Linked DNA regions of Homo sapiens: regions 1 and 2 are each reported to be linked to region 3. The links are microRNA targets in miRTarBase. Many come from high-throughput screens and were not tested one by one. Region 3 holds a microRNA gene; each other region holds the end of a gene's coding sequence.
The links. The annotated mature microRNA hsa-miR-579-3p reads UUCAUUUGGUAUAAACCGCGAUU and lies in region 3 at 1,985-2,007, opposite strand. An mRNA with a match to its seed (bases 2 to 7 or 8) in the 3' UTR can be bound and repressed. Matches are read on the target gene's strand: a 7mer-m8 pairs with bases 2 to 8, a 7mer-A1 pairs with bases 2 to 7 and ends in A, and an 8mer does both.

Region 1: miRTarBase lists SMIM10 as a target of hsa-miR-579-3p. Seed matches in the 3' UTR shown: 7mer-A1 at 6,035-6,041.
Region 2: miRTarBase lists YWHAH as a target of hsa-miR-579-3p. Seed matches in the 3' UTR shown: 7mer-A1 at 4,058-4,064.

What each region holds. Positions count from the first base shown.
Region 1 is chrX:134,986,928-134,998,507 of GRCh38, reverse strand. SMIM10 (small integral membrane protein 10) reads right to left here and starts at 7,517. Exons shown (of 1, transcript NM_001163438.2): 1 at 6,035-7,517. The coding sequence starts at 7,412. The coding sequence ends at 7,161.
Region 2 is chr22:31,953,136-31,964,715 of GRCh38, forward strand. YWHAH (tyrosine 3-monooxygenase/tryptophan 5-monooxygenase activation protein eta) reads left to right here. Exons shown (of 2, transcript NM_003405.4): 2 at 3,004-4,468. The coding sequence ends at 3,657. It overlaps LOC124905158 (small nucleolar RNA U13), which reads left to right and starts at 269; the gene lies at 269-371.
Region 3 is chr5:32,392,408-32,397,407 of GRCh38, forward strand. It overlaps MIR579 (microRNA 579), which reads right to left and starts at 2,068; the gene lies at 1,971-2,068. ZFR (zinc finger RNA binding protein) reads right to left here. Exons shown (of 20, transcript NM_016107.5): 10 at 4,812-4,931; 11 at 2,752-2,897.

The DNA of each region.
Region 1 (11,580 bases), not on the chromosome of region 3:
CACCACTGCCTGGACATGCTCAGCATCAGTCAGCATCCACACATTGCTTCCAGATGGAGTGTTCCTCATCTGGCTAGTGGCTATTGGGGCTGCCCTGAGGTTCTGTTGCTTCCTCTAACTTCTGTGCTGCAACACATGGTATCATGGAAAGCACGATAGTTATCTTCTGCACCCTTTGAGGAATGCAGAGCGAAGGCATGGAATGGGAGGTTTCCCCCATCCTTTTCTTTCTAGTTCCACCATATCATGTTCCCTATTCACCCTGCTGGTACAGGCAAGCCTCCTGACTTCAGAAATCTCCAGGCAGAAACAGATGCTAGTCTCCAGTATATGGCCACATGGGCTACCTGGGCCCTGGAGAAAGGGGTTATAAGGGTAAGCAGGGGGAAAATGGAAGCTACGAGAGCTCCCCCTCCTCCTCAACAGAGGAAATAAATGCAATAGCATATTCTTGTGGGAATTTCAGGGATTTTTGCCACTATTCAAGATTTGGAAAATGCAGATGTCATTCCTGCCACATGTAGTTAGTGTGAATCCACAGCTAAAACAAGGCTCTCCAGCTGGTGTAGGCTACTGTGCTGGTAGGTCTGCCCGTTGGCCCTTATCATCTAGCAGATCCAATGGTGCCCAAGATGTTTGGAGTAAATCATAATGCTATATGGGTTTAGCAAACAGAAATTCTACAAATAAAAAAAAAGAATGCCATATGGAGCCTGTGGCAAGCCCTGATAGGAGATTCACCATGGAGGCTGCTAGGATGCAATACATACTATGAACCAGCAACCAATATATAGAGCTATTCCTCCCACTGCCAAGATTAGCAAGTCTGGGAGCAGAGGAGTGGAAATAAAGGTAGTGTCTCTCATAATTACACCTGACCCATTGCAACAGTTTTGCTTCCCATACCTACAACTCTGATCTCTACTAGATTAGAGGTTTAAATTTCCTAGGAAGAAACACTTTTAGTAGTAGACAAAACAATGGTTTCACTGAATTTGAAGCCACTCTTAGATCCCCAGAGCCATGCAAAAAAAAGGTGATTTTGTGGTTTCTGCTATAGAAGGAGGACAGAGAGTAATATGGATGATTCTCAGGGGGTCCTCTAAGGTATTTTTTTATACTACAATCCTGAGGGGTGCATGACATAATATTGCAACCCTACAAAGGACTCCCAAGGGCTCAGACTCCTTAGGATTGAAGGACTGAGCCTCCCCAGTGGCTAAAGCAAAGGGAATGTGGAATTGATAGAGTAACAGGACCACCACATGGCTATGTACAGCAATGAAGACTCTACCCTCTACTTATATTTCCCTGTTTATTGTCTTCCTTTTTTGAAACTTTTCTCACCTCTTCTTTCTTTAGTATTATAAATAGGGTACAGTGGTGATGGTGAATTCACCACTTAGATCATGGGATTACAGAATATCAAATTGGGATAATGGCAGAAGTAGAGAAAGAAAAGACATCACTGGGAGAACGTGAACTATAAACAGAGGCCCCATGACTTCACCTCTGACTGTGGTAGCTGGAAATGTTTGTACGTGTTGCCTCTCTCTTGGTTGCATGTGGAATAATTAAATTATGCCAAGAGGCATCATATGAATGGGAGAAGGTTGTTTATACATGCTGGGAATACAAGGAATGAAAAGTAATTATTGTCTATGTTACTTTTTTTTTTTTAATACCTAACATCTTCTCTTTGGGGGAACTGCTAAAAATCACCGGGATTCACTTCTCTAGAACAAAGGAGTACTTGGAGGATAAATGCAGGTGACAGACAGACATTAGTACCCAGTAAAGCCCCAAATATTGGATAGATACCCTTATTTGTCCTGGAGCCTCTCTGCCTGTTAAGAATTTGATTACCTTGCCCAGAATCATTTAGATTATTTGGCTCAACAAAACTTGGCTTATGAACCGCACCTCTAAGTTCCCAAGCATGTTTCAGGAAAGGTTTGAAACAAAGCTATTAGATTTGTACTAAAACTATTCAAACTGGAGACTTGTGGTAAGCCATGCCTTGGAAGACAGGATATTTATAACTCTCTGACCACTCCCACCCCTATATTGGGAGATGAGGGTTCTAAAAACAGTCTCTCTGAGTTTCTGGAGAAGGAGATCAATGCCAGTAGTCATTCAGGTGACCAGTATCTGTCTGAGTCTGAATGCAGTTACAAAACTGCACCCAAGGAAGAGGTCAAGGATGGCAACAGAAAGCCCAGGCTGTAGATCGGTCTGAGGGAAGTCTGGGGCCTGAAACCTGCATCTCTGCCTGTAAAGCCAGAAGTCTGGGAATATCAGGAGAGGACCCAGAGGAAAGGAAACAGGAAATTACAAAGAATCAGGGTAGAACAGGAATTCGCCTTTGATCTGGCATATAAGAGAGGAGATCCCTCCCATTTGGTGCTTTCAGAGAATTGTACCTTTATGAAAGTCTGAGTTAAAAGAGTTTCTGTTGCTCAGAAGCGTGTTAGTAGTGCTCAAGAGAATTTCAGTTAACTCTACGGTTAAATCTATGCCAAAAGTTGCCAGAGATATTCAGCTCATGAAAGCCCAGCAATCACGAAAGAGAGCAGGTCGATAAATCAGAGGATGCTGTAGTTTCACTGGCTGTCTTGCCTTTTTTTGTGGGGAGGTGGGGCAGCAGTACTGTAGTATGAGAGGAATTACACCTGCAGTGAAGTGGAGGAAATTATTTGAAAAGTGAATAATAAAGCCAAAAAGCCTGTACTATTTGCAAGTTAAAATTTTAAACTGTGAGTAACTTTAGAAATGTGTATATTTTAACATGTTCTGTTAATGGGCAAAAAGCTGTGTTTTCTGAGAAAAACGTGACATTTAACTATTTACAATTTCCACATTAAAACCAATTTGATTTGAGTACCTTTTATAAAGAATGCTTTTAGGCCGGGCGCGGTGGCTCACGCCTGTAATCCCAGCACTTTGGGAGACCGAGGCGGGCGGATCACGAGGTCAGGAGATCGAGACCATCCTGGCTAACACGGTGAAACCCAGTCTCTACTAAAAATACAAAAAAAAAAAAATTAGCCGGGCGTGGTAGGGCGCGCCTGTAGTCCCAGCTACTTGGGAGGCTGAGGCAGGAGAATGGCGTGAACCCGGGAGGCGGAGCTTGCAGTGAGCCGAGATCACGCCACAGCACTCCAGCCTGGGCGACAGGCGAGACTCCGTCTCAAAAAAAAAAAAAAAAAAGAATACTTTTGATGTTTCATTAAAAATAATTTCTTTTGTTAGAATCCTTGACCGGGCGTGGCAGCTCATGCCTGTAATCCCAACACTTTGGGAGGCCAAGGTGGGCGGATGGCTTGAGGCCAGGAGTTTCAGACCAGCCTGGGCAACATGACAAAACCCCGCCTCTACAAAAAAATACAAAAATTAGCTGGGCGTGGTGGCATGTGCCTGTAGTCCCAGCTACTCAGGAGGCTGAAGTGGGAGGATCACCTGAGCCCGGGAGGCAGAGGTTGCAGTGAGCTGAAACTGCACCACTGCACTCCAGCCTGGGCAACAGAGTGAGGCCCTGTCTGAAAAACAAAAAACAAAAACAAACAAAAACAACATAAAGAATTCCCACCCTCTTTTTTAAGTGACTATGAGTTCCATCAATTCTCCATAGTGCAGTGGTGCAACGGCTTGGGAGTGCTGAAATGAGGCTGCAGGAATGGAGTGTCTAGCCTTGGTTCCACAAATTCCAGGATCCATGGCATCCACTTGCAGCATGAATTTTACAAGAAAATTTTAAAGGATGCCTTCCAATTTCTTTTTCTCTTTTTTTTTTTTGTGTGTTGTTTTTTGTTTTTTTGTTTTTTGGGTTTTTTGGGGGTTCGTTTTGAGACGGAGTCTCACTCCGTCACCCAGGCTGGAGTGCAGTAGCACGATCTCGGCTCACTGCAACCTCCACCTCCCGGGTTCAAGCGATTCTCCTGCCTTAGCCTCCCAAGTAGCTGGGACTACAGGCATGCACTACCATGCCCAGCTAATTTTTTTTTTTTTTTTTTTTGTATTTTCAGTGGAGATGGGGTTTCACCATGCTGGCCAGGCTGGTCTCAAACTCCTGATCTCATGATCCACCCACCTCGGCCTCCCAAAGTGCTGGGATTACAGGTGTGAGCCACCGTGCCCAGCCCCAATTTCTTAAATAATAAAAATACGATTAAAAGTTAGTCATGCAATGAGTGTCTCATATTAGTAGGAAGAATAATATTGTTTGCAATATTTTATTTTATCACTCTGCCACTATACTTCTCTGTGTTTCTCTCTTCTCTTGAAAATTGCTAGTAATAGTCCCTATCTCAGGGTTGTTGTGAGGATTAAATTATGTATATAGGCCGGGCGTGGTGGCTCACGCCTGTAATCCCAGCACTTTGGGAGGCTGAGGTGGGCAGATCATCTGAGGTCAGGAGTTCGAGACTAGCCTGGCCAACATGGTGAAACCCCGTCTCTACTAATAATACAAAAATTAGCCGGGCATGGTAGTGCACACCTGTAATCCCAGCTACTTGGGAGGCTAAGGCAGGAGAATCGCTTGAACCTGGGAGGCGGAGGTTGCAGTGAGCCAAGATCGCGCCATTGCACTCCAGCCTGGATGACACTCCATCTCAAAAAAAAAAAAATGATGTATATAAAGTGCTTAGAACATTGTATGGCATATTGTAAGTGTGCACTCTTTCCATTTATTATTTCTCTATAACTGAGTTGAGTATATGAATATATAATATACATGTATCACTCTTTGACTCAATCACTTGAATCATTGATTAGGTGGCTTCACATTTACTAAATTCATTCCACATCAATAAAATATAATTCCTTATCATTTTAATGGCCACATAGTATTCTATTATATAGATGTACTATTTTGATTTAACCAGCTCCTACTGTTGGATGTAGGAGTTTATTTCCACTGTTCTGCTATTATATATTTCTTTCTCTTTTTTTTTAATTTTACATTAGTTTCTTAATTAGACCCCAGGTGAACTCATGTTTTGCTCTTATGGTCAACACCAAAATTTAAGATTATATAAACATCACTGGGCCCCTGTCCGATTTTTTTTTTTTTTTTTGAAACAGAGTGTGGCTCTGTCACCCAGACTGGAGTGCAGTGGTGCGATCTTGGCTCACTACCACCTCCACCTCCCTGGCTCAAACCATCCTCCCACGTCAGCCTCTTGAGTAGCTGGGACTACAGACACGTACCACCATGCCCAGCTAATTTTTGTATTTTTATTAGTGACAGGGTTTTGCCATGTTGCTCAGGCTGGTCTTGAACTGCTGAGCTCAAACAATCCGCCCGCCTCAGCCTCCCAAAGTGCTGGGATTTCAGGCGTAAGCCACCGTGCCCAGCCTTCAATTTTTAAGTTTTGAAAATTAATCACATATTTATTGTTTAATTTTTATCTTAACTATGACATTCCACAGATTTGCTCATGAGAAGTTTCATGGTGTGAAGAAGCTCTGGGCTACATGAAGACTATTGGCCGTTTTTATTTTTATGTTTTTATTTATTTATTTATTCATTTGAGACAGAGTCTCGCTCTGTTGCCCAGGCTGGAATGCAATGGCATGATCTTGGCTCACTGCAACCTCTGCCTCCTGGGTTCACGCGATTCTCCTGCCTCAGCCTCCCGAGTAGCTGTGATTACAGGTGCCCGCAACCATGCCCGGCTAATATTTTGTGTTTTTAGTAGAGACAGGGTTTCCCCATGTTGGCCAGGCTGGTCTCTAACTCTTGACCTTAGGGGATCCACCTGCCTTGGCCTCCCAAAGTGCTGGGGATTACAGGTGTGAGCCACCCCGCCCGGCCCATTTTTAGTTTTAAAGCATTTCCATATGGCCTGTGGTCTGTTTGGAAACAAGACATTTACAAAGTCAAGGAAATCATAGTTTGTGTGATCACCCAGGAACCTTGTAGGATATACAGATACTACTGAAGAAAGATAGGAAGGCACTTATTTTAACTCAGAGTCCACCTGACACTCTTAGCAACCCCCCCCCCAAATTTCATTCTAAATGCAATAAATTCATTTTAATGTCTTGATTTTTAATCGAAGCAAAAGCAATACATGTGTATAGTTTTTAAAAATCAAACAGTAGAAAAAGGACATATAATGAAAAGTAATAGAACTGTCCCTCCTTCTCAACTCTTGCTTCCCCAAATCAGAAACACAAACTTCTACACGTGCTTGTTTAGAGATTACACCCCCTTTTTCAATAACATGCCTTTATTACTATTTCTTGACTTAATGACATGAGGCATTTTCTGCTGACTTCCTGCCGCCCCCCTCAGCTCTCCTTCCCCCTGAATATAGTCATATCACTAATTTTTAACTCTTCTGTTGGCTACCTGGTTCAATGAATAGCAAAGTGGAATGCTCTGATTGGATTTTCTCATCACCGACTCCAGAGTCTTGATCCATGTGCCAATATTCAAACAGATTCCCTTTCTCACACTTTCGGCAACTGTTCAAAACCATGCCACATCTGAGGTTGCTTCATATGTGAAACATAAGTTTCTTGCACAGTTTTTAATGTTCTTCCCTGTAGTTTCTTTCTGTCATTTTTTTTCCTTTGGGTTGAAGAAATGTATGCCTTCCAGAACATGTTATTAATGTCCTCCAGCTTATTATTCAATCCATCTATTGCTTAGAATTCATCTCATTCAATTGGGTCTATTCACTTCGTTTCTAATTGGGGAGATTTGCCTGCTGTCTGAGCCATTCTTGTTCAGTTTATCTTTCCTTAAGTTTTTAGTTACCTTTCCCCGTTTTTTTTTTTTATTGCATTCTGTGCCCATTGTCATTTCCTAAAGTTCGTGCTGTTTTCTGTTTTACGGATGCAAAAACTTCTCAGATATTTTTAAGGATTTTCAAATTTTTAAGCTGTATTCTGTTCCTTCAAATATTTCCTTGAGAGTCAATTTTTCATTCTATCTTAGACGATTTGGGTTATATTTCAGGCTTTCCACAAATGCTGTTTTTTTCTTTTTTTGCCACCCATTTATACTAAAAGATGAGGCAATGGAAAGAATGAGTGGCAAGTCTGCATGCAGGAGCGGAGTTGGTCGCTTTGCTCTAGGGTGGGTGAGCAGGTGGGTGGAAGTCAGCCATCCTGACGAGGAGCCCCCAAATGCCACAAAGTTAGTGGCTCTAAATATATACCTGCAGGTGGACGTTGAGAATCACCGAGGCCAGAATATAGAAGTAAAAGAAGTTCTTGCGCAGCCGCCAGGCCAGGTCGAAGAAGGTGAGCAGCGTGCGCGTGAGCGTCTTGCAGAAGGCGCCGTAAGAGCCGCGGGTCCCCTGCGGGCGCGACAGCCGCACCGCCAGGCCAGACAGGGCCGCCGCCGCCATGGACCTGATGCTGCCTCCCACATAGTGCCCAGAGCCCAAGGCCTCCATCAGGCTCCGCTGACTCACCGACCGTGGGACAGAGGGATGGACGCGGGAAAGTACGGGCGGGAGGCCTCCTGGGCTGCTGCTGATCCGAGCTGCGCTGCAAGGCGGAAGCCCTCCTTTCCCGGCAGGGCTCTGGCCCCAGCGGTCACTGGCGCCCTGCCAGGTTCCGCCCCGCCCCACGGGGTCCGCGTGGCCTAGAGTCAGTTTAGCCTAACTGTCCTGGCCCAGGCCCCAGAACCCCAGGAAGGGCAGGGCACGTGCTGACGTGGGAGACCTAGCTTCCTAACCCGGGCTGTCTTTTCTTTAAAATTATGTTTAATTTTTAAGTTTTTTTCAGTTTTTTAAGTTTTAACAAAAGGAACACAAAACTTGCTCAAAACGATATAAAATGTCCTTCATAAGCATGATCTTGAGCAACTCAGAAGCACAAACCCATTTCCTGTTGTCTCATCCCTTTAGGAACGTTTTTCAATCCTCAACTCTTGAGCTAGTACAAATATACAAAACCCGCAACTTTTCTGGACATTAAAATGTGTGCATTCTGCTTGAATAATTCAAGCAATACTTCTGTTTTTGTGTTAGATCTTTCGTATTCTTCTGATTGGAAAAGTCATTCAATCAAGTTTTTAGAAATTTTCAAAGCAGAAATATGTAAAACAATAGAAAGCAAATTCCCTGCATAGCTTCACTTTCCCCTCCTACCCTTGCCATGAACTACTATTACGTTTGCTGTATCTACTTCCCGACTTTATGTATTGATATATTGCTCTTACCTTTTCAAGAATGTACATCTACTTCACTCTCTTTGATGACTGAATAGTGATCTATGTACATGTTGACTAATAGTGGTCAATAATTTATTTAACCAGATCCCTATTGATGGACATTCTGAATGTTTCTAGTTTTTCATATGTCAAAAATTGTTTCAGTGAACATCACTGTACATATGAATTTACAAGTGGCAGAACAGTAGGAATAATATGACCCCATCTTTGTTTATGAAAACAATTACATATACATATACATTTAGTGTTCAAAGCCAAAACGTTTTACTAATACATGCGATTGATCAAAAAAGTTTAGAGATCAGGGCTCTATGTTACCTTGAGTGTTAACAATCTTAATTTTTTTATTACCAATATGATAGGCAGTACATTTCATTATTCTTCTAATTTGCATTCATTTAATTGTCAGTGCAGTTGAGCAACTTTTCTAAATTTCTGAAGTTTTCAATATTGTTTTTCTGATGGCTTGTAAAACATTAAACATCATATTTATTATGAGAAAAGTAAAATTCCTAGGCTCATAACCCCCTAGAGAGAAAGACTACTAATTTGTATATGTTTTTATCAATTGTTTGCGTATATTTATAAGCACAAACATGTATACGCACATAGATATATTTACAAATCGTAAAACAAAAATGGAATCAGATAAACATATGCAGTCCGGGCGCTCACGCCTGTAATCCTAGCACTTTGGGAGGTTGAGGCAGGCGGATCACCTGAGGTCAGGAGTTCAAGGCCAGCCTGGCCAGCATGGTGAAACCCTGTCTCTACTAAAAATACAAAAATTAGCTGGGTGTGGTGGCACTCGCCTGTGGTCCCATCTACTCAGGAGGCTGATGCAGGAGAATCGCTTGAACCCAGGGGTGGAGGTTGCAGTGAACCGAGATCGTGCCACTGCACTCCAGCCTGGGTGACAGAGCTAGACTCGGTCTCAAAAACAAACAAACAAAAACCAAATAAAACCAAACAAACAAAACAACATATGTCCCCACCTTTGCTTTTAAACATAATGATATGTCTTGCATATGTTCCCATGTTGATACTTTATTGGCTGTGTGTTATTCCTTATGGATGGCCAATAATTAACTGATCTCCTGTTGATGGATTTTTGGATGGTTTCAAATTTTTCGCAATCATAAGCAATGCTGAGATTAATATTTTGCATGCACATCATTGTACACCTTTCTGATATTTTCCAGGGATACATTCATAGAAGTGGAATTCTTAGCTCAAAGGGTTTTCATGTAAGGATTTTGATACGTATTGTCAAACTGCCTTCCACTAGCTTGTACTAATATACACATGAACATACCGTCAGCAGTTCCTAACAATTGGCATTCACATTCTTTTAATCAGTTGACATTCTGATAGGTGAAAAGGGTATCTCACTGATGTTTTAATTTGCACGGTTTGATTACTAGCAAGGTTGCTCCATTTTAGCCAATGTCTCATTAACAAGGCAAGTCACAGAGCAGATTCAAGAGAAAAGAAATAGATCCACGTATTAACAGTTCATTTTTATGTGTATATAGCATTGCACATCTCTATGAAAGGAACCACTCTGTCAAGTTTTGCCGTCTTACCCGGCACAGTGGTGCTTATCTGTAGTCCCAGCTACTTGGGAGGCTAAGGTGAGAGAATTGCTTGAGCCCAGGAGTTTGAGACAAGCTTGGGCAACATAGCAAGACCCCCATCTCTAAAAATAAATAAGTAAATTAATTTTTTTAAAGTTTTGCAGTCTTAATTTTAATAGCTATTTCCAATTCCTATGTAAAAAGTTGTTCCAGGCTGGGCGTGGTAGCTCACACCTGTAATCCCAGCACTCAGGAGGCAGAGACAGGAGGATTGCTGGAGCCTTAGGAGTTTGAGAACAGCCTGGGTAACATAACGAGACCCTATCTCTACAAAAAAAGTAAAAAATTAGCTGGACACGGTGGCACAGGTCTGTAGTCCCAGCTACTCAGGAGGCTGAGGTGAGAGGATTGCTTGAGCCTGAGAGGCTGAGGCTGCAGTGAGGCGTGATTGTGCCACTGCACCCCAGGCTGGGCAACAGAGCAAGACCTTGTCTCAAAAAAAATAAATTAAATGAAAAAGTTATAACAATTCCCACTCCCTCAGGCAATTTACAAAGCTGTTCATTTCTCCACACCCTCACCCATATTATTATGTATTATTTTAATATCATAATGTAAAATAAAATAATCTTTCTAATTATTATTATTATTATTATTTGAGATGGAGTCTCGCTATGTTGCCCAGGCTGGAGTGCAGTGGTGCAATCTTGGCTCACTGCAAGCTCGGCCTCCCAGGTTCAAGCGATTCTCCTGCCTCAGCCTCCCAAGTAGCTGAGATTACAGGCATGTGCCACCACACCCGGCTAATTTTTGTATTTTTAGTAGAGACGTGGTTTCACTATATTGTCCAGACTCGTCTCAAACTCCTGACCTCAGGTGATCTGCCCACCTTGGCCTCCCAAAGTGCTGGGATTACAGACGTGAGCCACCACGCCCGGCCCTAGTTATTTTGAATTTACCTATATTTGATTACTGCTGTGGATTAATATTATGCTTATTGGTCATTTGTAGTGGCGTCAAAAGGAAGGAGAGCCAGATGGGTGGGATGACTGGTGGCTACGCAGAAGGCTTACAACTAGGCTGTGGAAACCCCAGGGGCGGTGGCTGTGACAGCAAGGAAGAGGGCTAGGCAGCCTTCTCCTTGCCTTTTCATATCTCCCTGCCCCTCATATTGCCTAGGCCTTGGCCCCTTTGCTCATTTCTATATTAAAATGTTTGCCTAGGCCGGGCGCTGTGGCTCATGCCTGTAATCCCAGCACTTTGGGAGGCCGAGGCGGGTGGATCACGAGGTCAGGCGATTGAGACCATCCTGGCTAACATGGTGAAACCCCGTCTGTACTAAAAATACAAAAAAATTAGCCGGGCATGGTGGCAGGCACCTGTAGTCCCAGCTACTCGGGAGGCTGAGGCAGGAGAATGGCGTGAACCCAGGAGGCGGAGCTTGCAGTGAGCCGAGATCACACCACTGCACTCCAGCCTGGGCGACAGAGCGAGACTCCGTCTCAAAAAAAAAAAAAAAAAAAAGTTTGCCTAAGGCAGACAGAACAGCACAAGCAGCCTAAAATTGATAAAATCCCAACCAGAGCCCTGGGAGAGAAATAGAGTGGTCAAAATGGCCTAAAGTAATGCATTAAGCAAAGGAAATGCACCCTTCTCTCTCATGCTAGACACCAAATATGAAACAGTAGAATTAGGTCAAAGTTCTTCTCTTTGGAAAATTATACAAGTCATCTTTTGCTCTTCTTTCTCACGGTAGAGTGCATATGCCTTGATTCTTTTGTCTGAACCACTCACTCTATATATACGGGA
Region 2 (11,580 bases), not on the chromosome of region 3:
GAAGCAGCTTTGTTAGTCACAGGAGGAAGTATATTGTGACTCCTTATGGATATTATTTGTATTTTAATGCCAAATGGCCTTAGTTTAATTACTACAAGATGAAAGGAGCTCTCCAAATTCTGTTGTTGCCTTATGCTTTGTTTTATTGAATATTGCTCTAGAAACGCAAGTCATTCTAGAGGATTCAAGCATTCTGAAATTTATCAGAATATTTGGGATGGAATTTTGATTCAGAAGTGTTGTTCGTTAAAAGACTAAGTAGTTACTCATCTTTTTGTAGTTCATAAGTGTGATGATTGGGTTTTGACATGCAGGTGTGAGATGTGCCACCCTCAAACCTTGTTACAACATAGACATGTGACCCTCTGATGTGGGCAAAAAAAGACTAAGTTATTAAATATTTACAAAGTCTCTATTTTCCGTAAGAAAATGTATGTAAGTGTTTAAAGGCACTTACTGGAGGAGGAAACTAGTGGGGTTATAGGTGTTCAGCTGGATTTAAGGGGAGCATGGATTGTAGATTCATGGTAGACTGGGGCAGATCACAGTGAGAGGTATGGAGACTACTAATGAATATGTGAGGATGAATAATGAGAACCCTGGCTTGACCAGAGTGGAGGCAGCACCCCTGGGGAATGGTCAGGATAGCTGTTAGCCAAAGACCACACTGAAGAAAGAAGTGGGTAGGCAAAGGAGAGACTTTGCCTGTGTTAAGGGTTTGTAGCAGAAGAGTAGGGGTCCTGGGGACAGGGAAATGGAGAAATTAAGAGTGAGCTGGTATTTTTATTTTGTCTGGGGCTTGGGGGTAGGGAGGACTCAGACAATTGCTTGTTTTACTTTGTGAGAACTTGGCACGTTTTCTGATTTTTACCTGTAATAATGATTACACTTGCTGCTTATGTCCTTGAACCACTAATTCCCCAAATAAACCATCATTGTTCATGATTTCTGATACTCCACTGCTCAGTCTTCTCAATCCATTTTAAGTGTGTCTATTTGAATATGCTATTGATAACTTTCCCCAATGAACTTGGCCTTTTCCCTCTGGAGGTTCTGTCCTTACAGATTGGTTTAAGTAATACCTTTTTTGTTTAGTGTTTTATGGTTTCCTAAGTGCTTTGCTTTCTTTTTTTTCATTATTGAAATTAAAGACCTTTTGGATAAGCAGAGACTGATTTAATAAAATTAAAGACCTTTACCAGTAGGTCATATTAAGGAATCCCTCTACTTTAGACGACACACCATCTTTTAAGGGCTTGTGAAATGTCCTGGGTCAATTTAGGAAGTCATTTTCTTTGCTTGGGCCCAGACCAACTCTGTTAGCAACTCTGTTAGGAACTCTTGTTAGGAAACTCTGTTAGTTTCCTAGGGGGTGCTGAACCTAGTACGACAAACTGGATAGTTTAAAATAATAAATGTATTCTCTCATAGTTCTGGACGCTAGAAGTTTGAAAGTGAGGTGTAGGCAGGCCACGCTCCCTCTGAAGGCTCTAGGGAAGAATCCTTCCTAGGCACTCTCCCAGCTTCTGGTGGCTTCTGGCAACCCTTGGTGTTCCTTGGCTTGTAGATGCGTCACTCCAGTCTTTGCCTCCACTGTCACATGGCATTCTTCCTGTGTGTGTGTCAAAATCTCACTATCCTTATAAGGACACCTGTAATTGCACTTAGGGCACACCCTAATGTCCAGTATGACTTCATCTTAACTAATTACATCTGCAAAGACCCTATTTCCAAATAAGCTCACATTCACAGGAACCTAGGGTCAGAACTTCAGCGTATCTTTTGGCGGGGGATACAGTTCAACCACTGCAAAGTCTAATAATGCTCTTCCTACTAACTGCATAGCTAGTTCACTTGTAGTTGGCATCATGGAGAACTAAGGGAAGTTAAAGCTTGTGAAATTTAACTCTTCCACTTAAAATAATTGATGCTTCCATCCTTGATGACCAGAGTTTCCTGTGAGGTAGGTCAGAGTACAACTTCCTGCTGAGTAGCTGTGCTTCCTTTCACTAGGAGCTGGGGGTACTTTCATGTCACTTATGAATTGTTCTTCATTTTGGTTTGGGAGAGGGCTGGGAGTATCAGTTAGGGTTCCATGTGTAGCCACACAGGGCGAAGCTCTGGCCACTGGATCTGTGTGATGTTCCATCTGATCTGTGAAGCCCCACCATCTGTTAATGTGTATTTGAGGAGTGGTTGGTTCTTTCCAGAGTATAAAGCTGGAAGCAGAGTCTGGAACACTTCCAGTCTGTTGTCTTTGAACATTTGACAAAGGGACCGTACGATCTTACTGTTCAGAGTATCTTTTTTTTTTTTTTTTTTTTCTTTTGAGACGGAGGCTTGCTCTGTCGCTAGCTAGGCTGGAGTGCAGTGGCACGATCTGGGCTCACTGCAACCTCCGGGTTCAAGAGTTTCTCTTGCCTCAGCCTCCCAAGTAGCTGGGACTACAAGCGCGTGCCACCACGCCCAGCTAATTTTTGTATTTTTAGTAGAGATGGGGTTTCACCATGTTGGCCAGAATGGTCTCGATCTCTTGACCTCATGATCTGCCCGCCCTTGGCCTCCTGAAGTGCTGGGATTACAGGCATAAGCCATCGCGCCCGGCCTGTTCAGAGTATCTTTTGCAGAATGGCTGAAGCTCGAGGTTTTCTTCTTCACCATTATGTACTGCTGCTGTACAACCTTTTCATAATTATCCTTAGTCCCATTCCTCTACCAAGGTGAAAGCAACATCTTATCAGACCCGAATTATGAATTTCTCAAGCCCCTATGATTTTCTGTTTTGGGTGCCAAGTATTTATCTCTTCTGTTAGACTATAGTCTTTCTTCACATAGGGTTCATGTCTATATTGGTTTTATCCATGGGTGGTTTTTATTCTCCAGAGTGACTGACCTGTTCGTAATTCCGTTCTTGAGAAGGATTGTTGATTATGTTGAAGGGAAGGCTTCTTACCAAGATTTTCAGATTTTGCTTTCAATGTTTATCTTTTTGGGGTTTTGCAGGTGACAGAGCTGAATGAACCTCTCTCCAATGAAGATCGAAATCTCCTCTCTGTGGCCTACAAGAATGTGGTTGGTGCCAGGCGATCTTCCTGGAGGGTCATTAGCAGCATTGAGCAGAAAACCATGGCTGATGGAAACGAAAAGAAATTGGAGAAAGTTAAAGCTTACCGGGAGAAGATTGAGAAGGAGCTGGAGACAGTTTGCAATGATGTCCTGTCTCTGCTTGACAAGTTCCTGATCAAGAACTGCAATGATTTCCAGTATGAGAGCAAGGTGTTTTACCTGAAAATGAAGGGTGATTACTACCGCTACTTAGCAGAGGTCGCTTCTGGGGAGAAGAAAAACAGTGTGGTCGAAGCTTCTGAAGCTGCCTACAAGGAAGCCTTTGAAATCAGCAAAGAGCAGATGCAACCCACGCATCCCATCCGGCTGGGCCTGGCCCTCAACTTCTCCGTGTTCTACTATGAGATCCAGAATGCACCTGAGCAAGCCTGCCTCTTAGCCAAACAAGCCTTCGATGATGCCATAGCTGAGCTGGACACACTAAACGAGGATTCCTATAAGGACTCCACGCTGATCATGCAGTTGCTGCGAGACAACCTCACCCTCTGGACGAGCGACCAGCAGGATGAAGAAGCAGGAGAAGGCAACTGAAGATCCTTCAGGTCCCCTGGCCCTTCCTTCACCCACCACCCCCATCATCACCGATTCTTCCTTGCCACAATCACTAAATATCTAGTGCTAAACCTATCTGTATTGGCAGCACAGCTACTCAGATCTGCACTCCTGTCTCTTGGGAAGCAGTTTCAGATAAATCATGGGCATTGCTGGACTGATGGTTGCTTTGAGCCCACAGGAGCTCCCTTTTTGAATTGTGTGGAGAAGTGTGTTCTGATGAGGCATTTTACTATGCCTGTTGATCTATGGGAAATCTAGGCGAAAGTAATGGGGAAGATTAGAAAGAATTAGCCAACCAGGCTACAGTTGATATTTAAAAGATCCATTTAAAACAAGCTGATAGTGTTTCGTTAAGCAGTACATCTTGTGCATGCAAAAATGAATTCACCCCTCCCACCTCTTTCTTCAATTAATGGAAAACTGTTAAGGGAAGCTGATACAGAGAGACAACTTGCTCCTTTCCATCAGCTTTATAATAAACTGTTTAACGTGAGGTTTCAGTAGCTCCTTGGTTTTGCCTCTTTAAATTATGACGTGCACAAACCTTCTTTTCAATGCAATGCATCTGAAAGTTTTGATACTTGTAACTTTTTTTTTTTTTTGGTTGCAATTGTTTAAGAATCATGGATTTATTTTTTGTAACTCTTTGGCTATTGTCCTTGTGTATCCTGACAGCGCCATGTGTGTCAGCCCATGTCAATCAAGATGGGTGATTATGAAATGCCAGACTTCTAAAATAAATGTTTTGGAATTCAATGGGTAAATAAATGCTGCTTTGGGGATATTATCTCTGTTTGGTCTTGATTTTTCCCCCCTCGAGGAACTGTTTAACCAGTCACAAATTGTGGTTTGAATCTCTCAAACATGGAAGCATTTGTAGTACATTATCCAAGTTTTCCTCCCCTCTCATTACATTACATATTTTGCAGCACACACATAGGATTCATAGATTTTAAATAGTTTTCTGTGAACCCAGCTAACATAGCCTCTCTGATCAATTTTCCTGATAACTGGTGCTTTTTAATGAGCCTCGCAGAACAAAATGCAGTCTTCCACAGTATAGCACCTCTGAAACATTGTGGGCTCTGTTGAACTTGAGAGTGTATTTAACACTGAAGGTAAATACGGAGCTTATACACGTCCTCAAGTTTTCTTAATGTAATAAGATACTAGGGGCACAACTTGCACCCCTGAAATCTTTAGTGATTATTGTTAAGCATTTAGTATTCTTTAAAATAGAAAAGCAAACCTCATTGAGTTAAAAAGCCTAACCTACCCCTTAAACACTTGCTTAACCCCAATGTGTCTCTCGAGCCTCAGCATCACTGGCTGACTGTTCTTGAGTGAGGTGGTTTCCAGCTCCTCACGATTTTTATCACCTCCAGAGTGGCACCTAGGAATGAACGTTTGTTAGGTGAGTTGGTTCAGTTACACAGAACCCTTAAACGCCTTTTTCTATTTGTTTGTTTTTTTGAGATGGAGTCTCGCTGTGTCATCCAGGCTGGAGTGCAGTGGCATGATCTCGGCTCACTGCAGCTTCCACCTCCCAGGTTCCAGCCATTCTCATGCCTCAGCCTCCTGAGTAGGTGGGATTACAGACGCCACCACCACACCAGGCTAATTTTTGTATTTTTAGTAGAGATGAGGTTTTGAGTGTTGGCCAGGCTGCTCTCAAACTCCTGACTTCATGTGATCCACCCACCTTGGCCTCCCAAAGAGCTGGGATTACAAGCGTGAGCCACCGTGCCCAGCCTTAAACACCTTCTTGACTAAAGTTTGGCATTAGACTGATGGAAATGGCCATGACACAATCTCTGTCCTTGAATTTATATTGTGGAGCACATAACTTGTAAGCATGTAAGTTTAACCTGTTTCTTATTCTGAAGTAGAGTATGAGCCCCGCCCCCCATGCCGGGGCCGATGAATACGGCTCAGGAAGCCTGTTTCAAGTTGACCTAATTTTAAGATAAAGTGGTTATTGAGTTTCACTTCAGTTAGTAGGTCAGGTATTTGAAAGTCAACAAGCTTTATATGGCTAATACTTGCTTTTGATAAGCACGTAGACAAAATGTTGCTGGGCCATGGTGGCGTGCGCCTGTAGTCCCAGCTGCTTGGGAGGATGGAGCCCGGGAGGTCGAGGCTGCGGTGAGCCGTGATTGCTCCACTGTACCCCAGCCTGGGAGATAGGAAGACCTTTTTTTCTCTCTCTCTCTGTCTCTGATAGCAAGACCTCTCTCTCTCTCTCTTTTCTCTCTCTGTCTCTCTCTCTCTCACACACACACACAAAGGGCTCTTACATTTTCTTTTTTTGTTTGAGATGGGAGTCTCACTCTTGTCACCCAGGCTGGAGTGCAATGGCACGATCTCAGCTCACTGCAACCTTTGCCTCCCAGGTTCAAGTGATTCTCCTGCCTCAGCCTCCTGAGTAGCTGGGATTACAGGCACCCACTGTCGTGCCCGGCTAATTTTGGTATTTTTGTGGAGATGGGGTTTCACCATGTTGGCCAGGCTGGTCTTGAACTCCTGACCTCAAGTGATCCTCCCACCTCAGCCTCTCAAAGTGCTGGGATTACAGGCATGAGCCACTGTGCCCGGTCGCTTTTACATTTGAAATGTCCTTTGCAGTTGCTAAAGCATTCACATTTACGTTTTACAGCTGTCTTCTGAAAGGTTTTGTCCCACTTTACAGATGAGGAAGCTAAAGTGCAAAGGTTGTGGATCTCTGGAATTTATACAGCTGGTAAGCTAGAGGACAGCTTCCACCCAAGATTTATTCAGAATTTTAACGGCCCTCTGGGGGGCCTGGGGAACCTTGGCAAGCCATGCCACCTTTGAGGTTCAGGTCCCTCATTTTTTAAGTGTAGGATTTGGGTTATGTTTTAATCTAAGTTCATGGTGTGTAAGGCACCTTCTTTGGGAATGAGGTATGGGGAAGTATGGACATACGTGATTAATGTTAGCCACATAGGTCGCGTGCAGTGGCTCATGCCTGTAATCCCAGTACTTTGGGAGGCTGAGGTGGGTGGATCACTTGAGGTTAGGAGTTCGAGACCAGTCTGACCAATATGGTGAAACCCCGCCTCTACTAAAAATACAAAAATTAGCTGGGTGTGGTGGCTGGTGCCTGTAATCCCAGCTACGATGGAGGCTGAGGCAGGAGAATCACTTGAACCCAGGAGGCGGAGGTTGCAGGGAGCCGAGATTGTCCCACTGCACTCCAGCCTGGGCAACAGAGTGAGACTCGGTTTCAAAAAAAAGAAAGAAAAGGAGGTTAGCCACATAAATAATAGATGAGGCTCTTTGAAAGGACCTAAGAGGGTGCTGTAAATTACATGTGATGTAAGCCTGGAAGTCTTCACTGCTGCATATTTTTTCCCCAATTCTACTTAAAACGTTTTAAAACTTGTCAAGATAACTTTCTCAAATCGTTAAGAAGGGGTCATCTCAATGTTACAGCATGAGAAATTAAAGTCCAGAGAAATGAAATAGCTTTCTAGGTCATGGCAAAATTGGTGCATCTGGAGTAGCATTCAGATCCCGAATCCTTGTCCCTGGTTCTCTTAACTGCCATGCTCTTTGGGTTGAGACTAGAAAGAAAATGGATACAACACATTTCACCCTTAGGAGACTTTCAGTGTTTTTAATGTTTTCACTTAGAATGGAAGAAATTATACTTGAAAAGGGATGTTTAAATTTATTGATGTTGGCTGGGCGCGGTGGCTCACGCCTGTAATCCTAGCAGTTTGGGAGGCCGAGGTGGGCGGATCACCTGAGGTCAGGAGTTCGAGACCAGCCTGACCAACATGGAGAAACCCCATCTCTAGTAAAAATGCAAAATTAGCCGGGCATGGAGGCGCATGCCTGTAATTCCAGCTACTCAGCAGGCTGAGGCAGGAGAATCGCTTGAACCTGCGAGGCAGAGGTTGCGGTGAGCCGAGATCGCGCTATTGCACTCCAACCTGGGCAACAAGAGCAAAAACTCCGTCCCCGCCCCCCCCCCCCCCCCAGAAAAAATTATTGTTGCTATTGCTTCAGATTTCCAGTAGCTCCTCAAACCCTGCTCAAAAGTCCATTTCTTTGAGTTGGGGGAAGGGGTAGGATTCTTGATAATGAAGCTATTGTTGGGTAAATTCTTGGCCGTCCTTAAATCCTTCGGGATCAGGGAGCTAGGATTCCTCTTGGCTCTGTAAGATTAAATAGGCTGTGCGTGGGCCATCAGGCCCTCCATACCTTCCTCCCATACACCCTTAGAATCTGCCATCCAGAGACTGAGAGGGTCCTCATCTTAGCAGATGTGACTATCAGGCAAGCACAAACACTATGATTCAGAGCTGGGTGTGACTTAACAGGTCTTCTTTCATTATAAAACCCAATCATTAGACTGGCTAATAAAAATTACCATCTCAAATACTTACTGTGTCTTGGGTACTTTGAATGCATGGTCTCTGAATCTTTACAGCAGCCTTAGCAGTGAGGAATGTTAATATTTTTAACACATGAGGAAACCAGGTATTCGGTGATGTAACGTGCATAGCTAGTAAGAGGCAAGGTTGAGATTGAAATGGGCTGTCTTACTTTAAGGTTCTTTCCACTACGCCATGGATATTTTGATCCCCAACTAGAGAAAAGGAGTCCTAGAAATGTTATAACAAGCCTGGCAAGGTGGTTTACACCTGTAATCCCAGTACTTTAGGAGGCCGAGGTGGGAGGAGGATTGCTTGAGTCCGGGAGTTTGAGACCAGCCCGAGCAACACAGTAAAACCCCATCTGTACTAAAAGTACAAAAATTTAGCCAGCTGTGTTGTTGCATGCCTGTAGTCCCACCTATTTGAGAGGCTGAGGTGGGAGGATTGCTTGGTCCTGGGAGGTTGAGGCTGCAGTGAGCCCTGATTACACCACTGCACTCCAGCCTGGGTGACAGCCTGTCTCAAGCAAACAAACAAACCTGAAGGAATCTATTGTCAAATTCATTTCCCAAAGTTCTACTCCCATGCCATTCTGTACTAGGAAGGGGAGGGGAAATAACATTTGCTGTCTTTTGTGAGCTAGTCAGTCACCCTGCTAAGTGAAGCTTTATGTACATTTTTATTTTTTTATTATTATTTTTGAGACAAGAGTTTCACTCTGTTGCCCAGGCTAGAGTGCAGTGGCACACTCTCAGCTCACTGCAATGTCCACCTCCCAGGTTCAAGCGATTCTCCTGCCTCAGCCTCCTGAGTAGCTGAGACTACAGGTGCATGGCACCACACCTGGCTAATTTTTGTATTTTTAGTAGAGACAGGGTTTCACCATGTTGGCCAGGCTGCTCTCCAACTCCTCACCTCAAGTGATCCTCCTGCCTCAGCCTCCCAAAGTGCTGGGATTACAGGCATAAGCCATTGCGCCCAGCCTACATTTTTTTTTTTTTTTTGAGACGGAGTCTCTCTCTGTTGCCCAGGCTGGAGGGCAGTGGCACAATCTTGGCTCAGTGCAAACTCTGCCTCCTGGGTTCGAGCGACTCTCCTGCCTCAGCCTCCCAAGTAGCTGGGATTACAGGCATGCGCCACCACGCCCAGCTAATTTTGTATTTTTAGTAGAGACAGGTTTCTCCATGTTGGTCAGGCTGGTCTCGAACTCCTGACCTCAGGTGATCCGCCCACCTCGGCCTCCCAAAGTACTGGAATTACAGGCGTAAGCCACTGCACCCGGCCAACGCCCAGCCTACATTTTAAAGTTCAAGCTAATAATCTTGTGAATTAGGTCATAGCTCCAATTTAGCAGCTCAGAGAGGAAAAGTGACTTTCTATGGTCACATAGCTGAGGAGTGGCAGAGCATGTCTTTGTGCAGGGCTTCAAGATCCTTTTCATGATGCGATGTTGTCTTCAAGACAGGGGCTGAAAGCCTGCCACTCCAGGTCTTCCTTGATAAGACCTCTTTCTTCCTTGCCAGGTAGCCTTTGCTCAATCACCTTCTTTACATTCGCCTTTTAAGCCAGATTGGTCTTTTTTACTGCCCCACCCACATCTCCAGGCAATCTGGACCTTAATGTGCTTCTTACTCCTAAAGCTTGGAGCTCCTTCACTTCAAAAAGTGAGGTACTACAGTTACAGTAGGCACTGCCGTTACAGTATAACTCAAGAGGTGGATCAAAGCACCAACTGGAATCTCTCCAGCTGCACCCAGTTTGTTCAGCCTGCTCTTACTTTTGCTCAAGCCGTTACTCTCCTGTCTGGCTTTCTTCTCTTGCCCTATTCGAATTCTATCTATGAAATCTTACCTCCTCCCTGTCAGCTACTGCGATCCCTTCTTTGGGATCCAGTACTGTGGGTCTGTACCACACAATGGCATTTATCTGTCTTCATTCATTTGACAAACACATTGAAGAGCTGCCATTATGGGGTAGACACTGGGCAGGTGGCTGGAGAGACCTTAGTGAATTATACAGACATGGACATGGACCAGGGGGCTAACTCCAGTGTTAGAGTGGGGAGATACAAAAAAGTGGGGAAGATACATTAAAAAGATATAAAGTAACTAGGAAAATGTCACTCACGGTCCTCTCCAGGTCCAGCACACAAACTCACAGTAATGAATTCATGAATAACTCATTGATTACAGGTCAGAATTTTTAAAAAGAAATGACTGAGGCTGGGCGTGGTGGCTCACGCCTGTAATCCCACCACTTTGGGAGGCTGAGGCGGGCGGATCACAAGGTCAGGAGTTCAAGACCAGCCTTGCCAACATGGTAAAACCCCATCTCTACTAAAAATACAAAAATCAGCTGGGTGTGGTGGTGCACATGTGTAATCCCAGCTATTCGGGAGGCTGAGGCAGGAGAATCGCTTGAACTCGAGAGGTGGAGGTTGCAGTGAGCCGAGATTGCGCCACTCCAGCCTGGGCGACAGAGCAAGACTCTGTCTCGGGGAAAAAAACAAAACAAAACAAAGAGAAATGGCTGAAAGGAATCCTTTATTACCCCACCCAAACCTGACAGTCATGCAGCCTTGGGCTTGGCTCTAACCTGTCAACTGGCGGTGTGACCTTGAGCAAGTCCTGGCCTCTCAGCAGCCTCTGTAAAAATGAGGTTGTTGCATTTAGTGGTCTCTGGGGACCTTTCCATTTCTGAGATTCTGTATATTATTTTCAACTGCTCTGGGAAGGTCCCCTTCCTCTTCCTGGTTTTTTCCTGCATTTCTCCCCCTCCCCCTTTCCTTCCGCTCTTCACATTTGTCCCTTCTGTATCCGCCCTCAGCCCCCATTTCCTGGCCACCCCCCAATTCCACTGAGATGGTTACCATGGGAATCATCTCCTGGAAGTGACATCACACATTTCCTAGGCAACTGTTTCCAGGACAGTGACATCATCTGATCACCATGGTAACCCTCCAGGAGGCCACTTCTGCAGTGAAATGGGCAGAGAGAATTTTATGTTTTTTCTGGAGATTGAGGGCAATGTAGGGAAATATTAACAGCAACAAAAAAATCTCAAGAGTTAGAAGAAAAAGCTTTGAATGTTGTGCTTGTTGGGGGCAAGTGGGAAACCAGTGTGGGGCTGGGAAAGAGCAGAAGCTCGGGGCTAACCCCTTCTCCTTTCCAATAACTACATTGATCATATGTCACCAAATTGGGACATTTGAGAGTGAACAGGGCACCATTATTATTATGTGGGAAAGACAAGTGAACATGGCCTCCCCAAGCAAACCAGGGTATGTGGCCCCCTGCCCATAATCAGGGCAGGTGCCCGGCCTTCTTTCCTCAGCTATGGCTCATCCAGCATGCTTTGATTCAGCTCCTCCTGTGTATGGCTACTAGGGATACCACAGGGAGCAAAACAGCCCAGATTACTGTCCTAATGGTGCTCAGGGTCATGTGTGTGTGGTGGGGTGAGGGTGACCCCACAGTCACCCAAATGCACATTG
Region 3 (5,000 bases):
AACCAACACATACATAATAGTAAAAACTATTTAAAGGTAACCCATAAAAAGGATTATTAATAATAACAACGTAAGAAACGTCTGTACAAATCAACACATAAGAAAAAACAAGCAATTTACCACAAAAGAAGTATAAATAGCCAAACATGAAAACAATTCAAACTGAAACAAAATGGCTATCACATTTAATTGGTAGAGATTTTATTAAGCTGTAGCAGGGGTTCTCCAGGTGCAATTCAGGGACACCAAGTGGTCCCGGAGACCCTTTCAGGAGATCCATGGGGTCAAAATTATTTTCACAATAAGGCCAGTCGTGGTGGCTCATACATGTAATTCCAGCACTTTGGGAGACCGAGGCGGGCAGATCACTTGAGGCCAGGAGTTTGAGACCAGCCTGGTCAACCTGGTGAAAGCCCATCCCTACTAAAAATGCAAAAATTAGCCAGGCGTGATGGCAGGTGCCTGTAATCCCAACTACTTGGGAGGCTGAGGCAAGAGAATCACTTAAACTCAGGAGGTGGAGAGTGCAGTGAGCCAAGATCGTGCCATTGCACTCCAGCCTCGGCAACACAGTGAGACTCTGTTTAAAAAAAAAAATTATTTTCATAATAAATACTAAAGACACTTACTTGCTCTTTCATTCTAAATGTACAGTGAAATTATCCAGAGGCAACATGTGTTATTCACCACATATGAACACAAAAGCAAACATGAGAATCTTGCTGCCTTCTGTTAAAACCAGACATTAAAGAGATGTACAAAAATGTAAAATAGCATAACTTTTCCCACTATTCTGTGGAATAATTTTTTTACTGTATTTTATTGATTAAATATATCGTGTAATATTTTAACAAATATACATGTAACCATATTTCAAAAAATAATTAAAATGTCATTTTAAAATGAATTAACAAATATTTAAATTTCTTAGTTTTAAATTTTTTTTTTTTTTTGAGACGGAGTTTTGTTCTTGTTGCCCAGGCTGGAGTATAATGGCGCGATCTCGCCTCACCGCAACCTCCTCTTCCCGGGTTCAAGCAATTCTCCTGCCTCAGCCTCCTGAGTAGCCGGAATTACAGGCATGCGCCACCACGCCGGCTAATTTTGTATTTTTAGTAGAGATGGGAATTTCTCCATGTTGGTCAGGCTGGTCTTGAATCCCGACCTCAGGTGATCCACCCACCTCAGCCTCCCAAAGTGTTGGGATTACAGGTATGAGCAACTGTGCCCGGCCAGTTTTAATTTTTAATACAGTAAGTCTTGACAGGTATAACCCACATAAGGACTCTTTGGAGTCCTTGATAATTGAGGATAAAGGATCCTGAGACCAAAAAGTTTGAGAACCACTGAGTTATGCTATCCAGTATAGGCAGACATGTGAGCATCCTTCAAACATTTCCATTTCCCATATTCTATTATTAGCAACTAACGATAATGTATGCAGTAATATCGCCTCAATAGGTTCACATACTTGGTGAAAGAAACAAAAAAGTGCCTCAAGGAGGGTCAAGATATTAATAACTATAATAAGGAAACACTGGAAACTACCTAAATATCTAAACAATAACAACAAGGATTGGTTATGAAGAAAATTTTACATATGCACAAAAATTACTATGTCCTCATGAAAAACAAAATAATCCGAATTTAGTTTTTAAAGTTGAAGGTATGTAAATGAAAAAAGTGGATTATGAAAATACGTGTATGGTATGTTTCTGCTAAAACTGTATTTTAAAAGTTATACAAAAATATTCACAGCAGCAATACTCATAATAGTCAAAATGTGGAAACAAGTTGCATGTCCATCAACTAATGAACGAATAAACAAAATGTGGTACATAAGGATGTATTATTCAGTATTATTTAGTCATAAAAGACAATGGAATACTGAAACATGTTACAATCTGGATGAACCATGAAAACACGCTAAGTGAACGATGCCAGACACAAAAGACCATAGACTGTAGTAAGTTGATGCAAAAATAATCGCGGTTTATACCAAATGAATTTATTAATTCAAATCGTCATCTGGCACAAACCGCGATTACTTTTGCATTAACCTAATATGACTCCATTTATATGAAATCTCTAGAATAGGCAAATCTATAGAGACAGAAAGGTTAGAGGTTGTCCAGGGCTGGGGCTGGGGGAGATACTAGGTATGTGGGACACATGGGGAATTATTGTTAATGGGTACGTGATTTCTTTTGAGGGTGATGAACTGTTCTAAATTGATTGTGGTGATTGTTACACAACTCTGTCACTGTATAAGTTTAGAAGATATGTTATATTTCAATAAAACTTAACATTTGTATCTTTATATATATATAAACAAATATTTGAAATATGTTTTCTCAATTCTCCTTCCCTGTAGCCACTAAAGTTTCTTTATGGACATTATTAACATGTAGAATCTATCAAATCTTATACTTCTATCAGGAAATGTATGTCTATTTTGCTTGTTTGAAACCGAGGCACTTATTTATAATATGAAACTATTTCTTCATATGTTTAATTTATAAAAGATGCCACTTAAACATATAACTCTAATACCAAGGCCACAGTAAAATATTAGTATAGCCAGTAACAATTTTAATGCATGTCTTTCCTAGACCTAGGATCTTCCTCAAGAGTGAAAATTGGAAGTAAATAAATCTGGATTGCTTTGAATGGGAGTCACATGCTCAGAATGGCTAAGTTTTTAAGAAAGGCTGAACCACTTACCAGGCTATTAAAAGTTAAAGATATTACCTCATTTCCATTCTCCAACGCTCCTCTTCTTCTCGTCTTCGCCAGTACTCCTCCTTCTGCATTTGCTTCCTCATTTTCTCTTCTTGAATCTTTCTTGCTCGAATACTAGGCTTTACTTCTACTTGCAAATCTGGATTTACTTTTTTCTATTAATATAAATAAGACATTTAAAAAACAGCAGCCCCAAAACAATCTACATGTATTTTTAATCATACAATTACACTTATTCTTTAATCACGGAGGCTTTTAGTTGCAAGTTTCCCACTAGAGAGTAAAATCAATATAATTAAGGTAAATCAGAGAAAAGATTCAAAATACATTAATAAAAATTATGTAAAAAGTATGTAACTTAGTGCTGACCAACAAAAAGTCATGAAATCCTTAGAAAAACTAATGGATATTTAATTTTACTTTACATTTGACCCTTGAACAACAGGGGTTTGAAGTATATGAATACACTTACATCTATGCTGCTGAGTTTCTTCTCCCTCTGCCACCCCTGAGAGAGTAAGACCAACCCCTCCTCTTCTTCCTCAGCCTACTCAACTTGAAGATGATGAGGATGAAGACCTTTATATGATGACCCACTTCCACTTAATGAATAGTAAATATTTTGATTTTCATATTTTCTCAATAATATTTTCTCTTCTCTAGCTTACTTTATTCTAAGAATACAGTATATATGAGATACATGACATACCAAAAATGTGTTAACATAAAAATAACTGTTTATGTTATCAGTAAGGCTTCTGGTCATTAGTAGGCTTTTAGAAGTTTTTAGGGAGTCAAAAGTTATAAGCAGCCTGGAGTCCCAGCACTTTGGGAGGCCAAGGAAGGCAGATCACTTGAGGCCAGGAGTTTCAGACTAGCCCGGCCAACATGGTGAAACGTTCTCTAGAAAAATACAAAAGCTAGCCAGGCATGGTGGCACATGCCTGTAGTCCCAGTTACTTGGGAGGCTGCGGTGGGAGGATCACTGGAGCCCGGGAGGTTGCAGTGAGCCATGTTCATGTCATCGTACTCCAGCCTGGGCAACAGAGCAAGGCCCTATCTCAAAAAAAAAAAAAAGGCAGGCAAATTTTTGACTGCGTGAGGGGCCCCTGACCTCCATGTTGTTCAAGGGTCAACTGTAACTGTTTATAAACAGATGACTCTAAATGTCTATGTTGGGGTTAAAAAGTTTCTTTACATATTTAAGTACTACCCTTTTACACTGTTTTAATTTTCACCTCCTCCGTGTTTAAAACAGAAAACATGGATCTAGTACATCAATCTAGCCTAGTTAAAAACTTCAAATACAGGCCAGGCACGGTGGCTCACGCATGTAATCCCAGCACTTTGGGAGGCCAAGGAGGGCGGATCATGAGGTCAGGAGTTCAGGCCAACCTGGCCAACATGGTGAAACCCCATCTCTACTAAAAATACAAAAATTAGCTGGGCATGGGGGTGCATGCCTGTAATCCCAGCTACTCGGGAGGCGGAGACAGGAGAAATGCCTGAACAGGGACCCAGGAAGCAGAGGCTGCAGTGAGCCGAGATCATGCCACTGCACTCCAGCCTTGGCTACAGAGCGAGACTCCATCTCATTAAAAAAAAAAACTTCAAATACAATATCTGATTTATCTTAACATTTGAAGTGTATTCAGTGAAGAATTCCTACGCTAAGATAAGTGAAGGGATTTTCCAACATATCAACTCATCTCAAAGTTCATTTTGGTGGGAATTCTACCAGATAAAGAAGGTGGATAAATAGTTGAGACTTTTTTCAAACATTTTATGTGAATTAATTATCTTTACATGATTGCTTGGTCCAGGCAATGCTTCAGTTTTTGCCACAATTACTAAAACTGATGAGAATGTTATTCTTCTTTATTTTAAAAATGGATAAATAAAAACCAAACATCCATCTGAGTCTACCAACATGACATGCTAATCTTAGAATGGGACATCATGGACTTGGCAAGCTGTGTTTAGATGCTTTCTTTTACATAAAGAATGCTCTGGGTGTTTTTGTTTTTGTTTTTTGTTTTAAAGAAGGTAATAGCTGAAATTTTACTCACTTTATATTGAAGTCTGTGTCTTCGCCCTTTTAAGTGCATCTCCTTAGCATTGGGATCATTAAAGCTGCACTCGCATAATTTACAATGGAACCGAATTACTTTTCCTTCATCATTTCGTACCTTGGTGTGGAAAAAAAATTCAAGAATCATCATAGTTGAAGATTATATCATTCATAAACCCCCACATAT